Linked DNA regions of Homo sapiens: region 2 is linked to region 1. Evidence: fine-mapped QTL for protein levels in blood plasma. A gene starts in region 1. The other region holds a variant in brackets. All regions are shown on one strand. Distances are from middle to middle.

The links. PIP is the chance, under the fine-mapping model, that this variant and not a neighbour inherited with it causes the effect. The UK Biobank Pharma Proteomics Project read protein levels with antibody pairs (Olink). The fine-mapping took linkage between variants from a reference panel, not from the people measured, so its PIPs are less certain.
Region 2: its variant is fine-mapped to the plasma level of the CRISP2 protein (UK Biobank, PIP above 0.99).

What each region holds. Positions count from the first base shown.
Region 1 is chr6:49,711,780-49,716,184 of GRCh38, forward strand. CRISP2 (cysteine rich secretory protein 2) reads right to left here and starts at 1,764. Exons shown (of 10, transcript NM_003296.4): 1 at 1,696-1,764; 2 at 722-825.
Region 2 is chr6:49,680,867-49,685,271 of GRCh38, forward strand. It overlaps a transcript of CRISP2 not described here. Among named protein-coding and RNA genes, the nearest start is that of CRISP2, 30 kb to the right of the region's middle. The variant G/A (reference allele first, on the strand shown) is at 2,696.

The sequences.
Region 1 (4,405 bases):
GAAATCTATGCCAAGCTTCAGTGTTTTTCTTATGTAAAATGTAGATTTTTATATCACAGGTTTTTGCTTTGAAGACTGGAAGGGACAATGTATGTAACACCTCTAATACAATAAACACATTATGCACATAATACAAATAAACGGAAATTATTCATGTTTTTATTATCTTTTGCAATGTCTGCTAGTTTGTTGAGCTCATAAGAGCTTTCTATAAACATATGCTGTTTGATTGAATTGCTAATTACTAAGTGTTTAAGAGACATGTGTTTCCTTCCAGGTGTTATAGGAAAATACAATCAGTATAATCTAATTCGAGATTCACATGTTCAAGGCCTGGTTCTATTAGACACCTTCTGGCTGACTTTAGGAAAATGCTCTAACATCTGGGCTGTTGTATCCTCATCAGCTCATTGAAAGCCATACACAGGAGCCTGAAGAGTTTTGTATAGCTCAATCACCCAGTGTATGCATCTGATGAGCCAGAATTCTATAATAGGCCATGATGCCATACTCTCCTCTTTGCTGCTCTTCTCTCTCATAACCTCAACCATCTAACCTATACTCATCTTCATTGAGTCAATGAAAGCAATGTCACTGTTGGTGAGAGTATATTCAAGGAAAAATATTTTTTTCTATTCCATATAATTACATTTTATTCCTTTAAACCCATATTGATATATAGTTGAAAAGTTGGCTACCATTTTTTTTCTTTGCTACTTACTAATGGTGAAGTACTGTGCTCTTTCTTGCAGGTGTTTTAAGATCAGGATGACATGGTTTTCCTAGAGTGTCTTTAGGAGGGCCATGGTGTATAATTTTATAACCCTAGAACAAGGAAACAAAATATTTAAAATAAAGATGTGAAGAATACCCTTATAGATGGTATCTATAATCTTTGTCACAAACTTAAATTTTGACTCAATTGTTTAGTATTGTTTCTAATAATTTACTGTATTTATTTGATTTCAGCGTTAAGACCATATTGTCCTTCTGAGGTCAGATTGTATTTCAACGCCCTGATATTTCCTTCAAACACTAACAAAAAAGTGGACTTCTTGAAGTTCAGTAACTACTAGTTGGCTAACTTGCTTGGAAAATTGCAACCTTTTTTCAAGACTCCCAACCCCTTATCTAGGACTTCAACCCATTCTTTAAAAGATCATTTCCATAAGCAGTGTCCCACATGGTAAGTATTAACTACGTGGATTTGGGGGTAACAGCTTTGTCTCTTCATTTTTTTTTTAAATTCTGGAAGCCAATAGATGATATAAAGTCCAGCAGAGTCAATGACCCCAACTCTAATTGTTATTACAGTTTCTAATAACTGTACATTCAAAACATCAATTAGAAACTAAGAGTCTTAATTTGACTTCGTAAAAAGCAGATTGAGAAATGACTTCAGGCTTCTACTATGATTCAATGGGTCTTATGTACTTAGAATGATTTCTCTTTTAAGGTAGGTAAAGAGTTTCAATAGACTAAACATAGAGAAGCATGTTGAAAGTTATGGTAGGTCGGCGCTAAGCAACAAAATTGAACTCTCAGTCTGCCCGGCATTAGCTATGTGCCCTCCAGATGCCGGAAGAGGAGCGAAGGAGGATCAGAAACCCCCTCACCTCAACGATGGTTCTCTCCCCTGTGCTTCACCCCACCTCCCCGTCCCTAGCCATTTCTAGTCTCCAATCCGGGTCTTACATTTACCCTGGCTCCAGAGCACAGACCTTCCTGCAGTTGGGCCGGCGCGTTGCGGCGTTGAGGAGCTGCGGCGCGCCCCTCTCACCGCGATTGTTCACTTGCCAGGCGCCACGTGTGGGCGACGTCACTGGGCTTTATGCTTTCATCGCCGCTATCTGCCTACGTGAGCTGCTCTCCTCCCATCGCCCCCGCCTCCCCTACTACGGAGAAAATCTTGCACGTTTTCCCTTGTGAAAAGCAGAGTTCTCTTTTTCTCATTACCACCAGTTGATGAGGAAAGAAAATGTCTGTTCGCATACCTGCGCCGTACTAGGAGGAGGAGGGAGGTCATATAAGGATTCGGGTTGCCCAGGGGGTGGCTTGAAAAAGGAGGCGTTCGCATTCAAACAAGAATGCCTGAATTAATGTAGTTCAATTTAAAGAGCTAATTAGGAGTCCACAGGTGCTTAAGTTTGCAGTGCGCTGCCAGTGTCATGCCAACGACGCACTCCAGTTACACAGGTTGTCAGTTTCAGGCTCCCTCATAAACACTTCATGTTCTTGTCCCTCTTCCCCGTTGGCAACAGTTTTATGGTGAGAAAATTCACGAAGAGTAACAGGAACAACTCTTATGAAAATACGCAGAACTCCTGACCCAAGGCTACTGGCTGCAAGTTTAGCATACGTATCAAGCATGGGTTAAAGACATGTTTTCTCTCTCAGAAGGCGGATGAGTAATAGGTGCATTTTCTTCTATTCACAGTTGTTTTCAAAGCGAAAAGGAGTGAATTCGCTTATGACCTAGAGGAAGAGAGATGGGTCAAAAGATGTCAAGCCAAGGATTAATATCCGTCATACCTTGGTTCTCTGTAAGCCATGCAATAAGAGGCTTGAGATTTCACCAACTCTGGAGACTCACTTGGGCACAACTGAAACTATAACAAACTTGGTGCTCAGTGCCATTTTCCTTTGGCAGTGTTACAAGGTAATTTCAAGGGATCAGCACACAGACATTGTTTTAGTTTTCTTTTGCTGCTTATTTCAGTTCATGCAGCACTGACTAAAAATTTTGGAATTTAGACTGCTTAACGCTTATATCTACATCCAATATCAAAATTCATTACTGACAGTTTGCCTTTCTAAATATTTATGAAATCTAGTCCTCAATCTGTCCCTCACTTCTATATTCATGTTTTCACCATATCTTGCTTAAGTTATTAATTGGACATTTCAAATACCTATATGCACAAAATCTCTGCCTACCTATTTGTTCTTTCTTTCTAGTGCCGAACAATTCATTCTCAGCACTATAATAGTCTATCATTTACTGTGAATATCTTATTTTTCATTTTTGGAGAAGAGTCATTCCTGTAATTATTACTTGTTCCCATATTCACATTGATGATATCAGAATGAGAGCAACTTGAGCGCTGTGGTGCCAGATATTGTTGGTGAACCTGAATTTCAGAAATTGGCTATGTCTGTCTTGATTATTGCTGTATCTCCAAAACTAACACAATACCAAATATAGGTGGTAGTTTGTAAATATTTGTTAAGTGAGTAAATATTGACCCGACATAGATTCTTAGAAAATACAGAAAAAAGGACATAAAATCTCTTTCTTCTAAGACTCATAGTACTATGAGAGAAAGGAGTATGTATATGAATAAGTAAAGAATACTATTAGGTAGTGTAGTTTAATGCTAAGTAGGGCGACCAAAAATATATACAGTAATTGAGAGTTCTGTGAGTTGATATGATCTGGGTAAAACCTAGGAAAGTTTTGACATTTGAACTGTTATTGAATAATGCGTATGGCTTGATTTGAAGGGAGAAAGAGTTGAAGAACAAAAGCAGATAAATCATTATATCACAAGGCATATTCAAGACAGAAAGACTGTTGAAAAGGTTGGGGAAACTTTGTATAGAAGTCTAAGGAGATTTGCTTCTCTGTATAACATGGGAAAGTAATTTCATTGACATTTTGGAGGGTTGGGAAATTCTTTGATCAAAAGAATGTTTCATAAAAGCCACCTGATCTCACTGCATGGGGTGATTTACAGAGCTGAGAAATTGATGGCAGCAAAAATAAGTGTGGTAACAATTCCCCAGATTAATTTTGTAGTAGTAGAAATAGGACAAAAGGGTGGAATATGAAGAGATTTTTAAAAAGTGTTGATAGATTTTGTATGAAGGGCAAATCCAGAATAGAAGACTTGTAAGTTTGGTGCCTGAATGTGTTGGAGAGCACATGGAAAGTAGATCTCCATTACTGAGAGGAATAGTACAGGTACTTCTAAGAACATTGCCAGGAGTCCTTTGCTTTTCTAGAAGGGCATCATTTGTTAGTTCCTTTTTCTATGGTTTGGAGTAAAAGAAGCAATGATTAGAAATGCATTCCTCATAGTAGGCTCTATAGCAGATTCTACTGTATAGGATATAGTTAAATACCAGACTTTAAATTCTCTTGTGAAAATTATGATAGAATTGGCTGAATAGAGAAGTATCTGTGCAGCTGCTGGCACTTGTGGCCTATGGAGAAATACATCAGATGAAGACTATAGAGATTTAGCTGTAGAGGATAAATGAAGAGATTGCTTAGTTAAGTAAGTAGACTCTTTAGCTCATTTTTTGATCTATTTAATTTTAGGTGGTTTGGTTTATGGGTAACCTGGGTAAAGAGCATACTCCAAACTCTTGGTATTATCCTCCCGATAGTCATAATAATAGT
Region 2 (4,405 bases), 31 kb before region 1:
TAAGTTTCCTGTAGATGCTAGATATTAGACCTTTGTCAGATGCATAGTTTGCAAAAATTGTCACCCATTATGTAGGTTGTCTGTTTAATTGTTGATAATTTCTTATGCTGTACAGAAACTCTTTAGTTTAATCAGATCCCATTTGTTAATTTATGTTTTTGTTGCAATTGCTTTTGGCATCTTCATTATGAAATCTTTGCCCATGCCTATGCCCTAAATGGTATTTCCTAAGTTGTCTTCCAGAGTTTTTATAGTTTTGGGTTTTACATTTAAGTGTTTAATCCATCTTGAGTTAATTTTTATATATGGTCTAATGAAGGGGTCCAGTTTTAATCTTCTACATGTGGTTAGTCAGTTACCCCAGCACCATTTATTGAATAGGGAGTCCTTTCCCCATTGCTTGTTTTTGTCAGATTTCTCAGAGATCAGATAGTTGTAGGTGTGCTGTCTTAATTCTGGGTTCTCTATTCTGTTCCACTGGTCTGTTTATCTGTTTTTGTACTTACCAGTATCATGCTGTTTTGGTTACTAAGCCCTGTAGTAATTTTTCAACTAGATTAAGCATTTTTTCAACTAGATTAAGATATCCATAATAATATTAGTATATAGACCCACATTTGAACAAAGTACTTAATGAATTCTGCTGAAACTTTAGATTAAATGTGGGCAATAACATATAGATTTATAAAACAGAATCAATTTTGATTTATATTTATAAACTATCAAAAAGAAACAAATTTAGTGTAGCAAATTTAAAAATTATATTTTACTGTTTTACATATAATATCATGGTTTAAAAATGATGAAATCACTTTAAATTGGAGGAATTTCTCATAGATTAATGCCAAAGTTTTCTTTTATTTTTTTCCCAGGCTGGCCTCAAACTACTGAGTTCAAGCAATCCTCCTATCTCAGCCTCCTAAGTAGCTTGGATTCCAAGTGCACACCACCATGCCCAGCTTCAAGATTTTTTTTTGCCCTTTCCATTTGTCATATGTTAATCAATATGTTGCTTTCCTCCTTGTCATTATTCCTTGTTAACTGACAGTGATCTCATGATCACCTTGAAATGTTTTTTAATATCCCCCAAGCATTTAAATAATTATTTACTATGTCCTCACAGGTTAGATCATTCTTTTTCTCCTTCAGATAATTGTGCCAGGCTGTAGAGTTTAAAGATCCATCTCCGTGAAATAAAGTAATAAAAAATAAAAGTTAAATAATCATCTGTCTCTCTGGCATCTATACTATACTATTTCATCCTTTCCTCATCTTCTTGTTTTTGACACTTTTGGTGGACCTTTGCTCTTATTTTCACAAACTTTTTTAAATTCTGGGATTTAGCATATTGTTTCACTTACTTCCCAGGAATCTCAGGTGGTATTGTGGCTTTAGGTGCCGTCTATACAAAGATGATTTTCAAATCTTTATCTCCATTTTAGACTAAATCCCTCCTTATATATTCAACTGTCTTCTCTATGCCTACACTTTCAACATGTCCAAACTGAACACCTGATTTAGTTCTAGCAACCATATAACATACTCTAGTTATCTATTTATTTTCTTTCTCTCTTTCCCTTTCTTCCTTCCTTCTTCCCCATCCCTCCCTCCCTCCCTCCTCCTCCTCCTATTCCTCCTGTTCCTCCTCTTCCTCCTTCTCCTTCCTTCCCACCTCCCTCCTTCCCTCCATCTTTCTCTTTCTTTCTTTTTCTTTCTTTCTTTTTCTTTCTTTCTTTCTTTCTTTCTTTCTTTCTTTCTTTCTTTCTTTCTTTCTTTCTTCTTTCTTTCTTTTCTTTCTTTCTTCTCTCTCTTTCTGTCTCTTTCTCTTTCTTTTTCTTTTTTCTCTTTCTTTTTCTCTTTCTTTTTCTTTCTTTTTTCTTCCTTCTTTTTCCTTCCTTCCTCCCTCCCTTCCCTCATTCCTGCCCTCTCTCCTTCTCTTCCTCCTTTCCCTCCTTCCCTCCATCCCTTCCTCCCTTCCTCCCTTCTTTTCTTCCTGTTTCAAGTTGAGGTTACCAGGCACAGTGGCTCACACCTGTAATCTCAGCACTTTGTGAGGCCGAAAAGGGGGGATCACCTGAGGTCAAGAGTTCAGAACCAGCCTGGCCAACATGGCGAAACCCCATCTCTATTAAAAAACAAAAATTAGCTGGGCATGGTGGCATGTGCCTGTAATCCCAGCTAATCTGGAGGCTAAGGCAGGAGAATTGCTTGAACCCGGAAGGCAGAGGTTGTAGAGAGCTGAGATCACGCCATTGCACTCCAGCCTGGGCGACATGAGTGAAACTCCATCTCAAAATAAATAAATAAATAAATAAATAAATAAATAAATAAATAGAGACATGCAGTGTATACAATACAGCACACAAAATCTTAATTGCATAGCTCATTTAATTTCTAAACATGTGTATACCTATGTAAATAGCACTCTAAAGGGCTCCTTCATGTTCACCCAACCAGGACCCTTCAAGGTTTAATCCATTTCTTGTCACCATTTTTATAATTATGGGTTTTTAATATAATAGAAACAGCCGGGCGCAGTGGCTCATGCCTGTAATCCCAGCACTTTGGGAGGCTGAGGCAGGCAGATCACGAGGTCAGCAGTTCAAGACCAAGATGGTGAAACCTCGCCTCTACTAAAAATACAAAAATTAGCCGGGCACGGTGGCAGGCGCCTGTAATCCCAACTACTTGGGAG[G/A]CTGAGGCAGGAGAATCACTTGAACTGGCGGGATGGAGGTTGCAGTGAGCCGAGATCATGCCACTGCACTCCAGCCTGGGCAGCAGAGTGAGACTCCATTTCAAAAAAAAAAAAAAAAAAAAAAAAAAAAAAAATATATATATATATATATATATATATATAGAAGTTGATAGGACTAAGTCACTATGTAATTTATAAAGACATATTCTAAGCCTGACTACCATTGAACTAAAGGTTTTAAATGTCACATTGTCAAAAGTGAACACATTTTCATGAATACAGAACAAGTAATCTACCTAAGAGCTTTATATAAAGGAAATATTTATTTTCAAATTAAATGTCCAGTTTGAATATATTTTTCATTCAAGCTATGAGCTAATTTTAGTTTTCATCAGGAAGCAGAATTGTGGTAGTGCTTAAAAGTATAAGACTTTGAGTCCTACTATATCTGTACTGAGTACATGCTTTGATGTTCCTTGGCTGATTGTATCTGGGCAAAGTACTTAATCTTCCTATCCTTGTTTCCTCATCCGTAAAATAAAGAGAAAGGAATATTGGGAGGATAAAGTGCAAAAATGAATATAATCGTCCCTCAGTAGCAATGGGGGATTTATTCTAAGACCCTTTGAAGATACGAAAATCCACTGAAGCTCAAGTCCTTTATATAAAATGGTGTAGCATTTGTTATGACCTACACACACCCTCCCACATACTTTAAAACATCTCTAGATTGCTTATAATACCAGATACAATTTAAATCCTATACAAACAATTGTTATATTGTATTTTTTAGGGAATAATGACAAGAAAAAGTCTGTGCATGTTCAATACATATGCAACCATCTGTATAGTACTTTTTTCCTACTATTTTTGATGATCAGTGGTTAGTTGAATCCATGGACGTAGAACTCACAGATATGGAGGACCGACTATATAAGGAATTCAGCATGGCCCCTGGGATACAGTATGTTTTCTAATTAACTTCTGCAGTGCTAAGGGGAAGCAGAGAAGAAAATTAAAATGTATTGAGTATCATTAGTACCTCTTACTCTTGAATATCTTACATACTTAACTTAAAAAAGAAATCTACTTAATTTGAAATAAATCAATATCCAATGGCATTAAAATTTTAACATGTAAATTAGGGGTATCTTATACAATCATATTTCTCAATACCATGGGGTTTAAGATCATTCTCATTGTTTTTATATGTGGATGTGTTTGGATTTGTGTGCCACATACATACACACACTTATATAGTTTTCCCCTCTACCTACTATTGAAAGGGACAGAAAGTCTAAACTTTCAGTCAATTAGTACTGGGTATCCTTTGGCTCATAGAGACTTTTTGCATGCATACTAACAGAACTTTCATCTCCTCTGTAGCATATCCCCTTTTGTTACTCTCTACTCCAGCCTCTTTCACAGCTCTGGGATGCTAAGGACTCTGATGCCTGGGAACTCTGTGAGCACACTGCCAATAGTTCCAGGTCTCACAAATGAGTTTCTGTTTTGGGCTCCCCGGATGCCTCCCATGGCTGCCATTGCCTCATCAGCCCCCACTGCCTTTGCCACTGGCCACCAATGCTGCAGTGATAAAGATGGACACTTCATATGAGCAGCATGAAATGGTGTTTTCTGAAATTTCCTCTAACTTAAAGTCACACTGTGTTCCTTTAGAAAGTCGTAAGACAGCATTTCCGCCCTTTG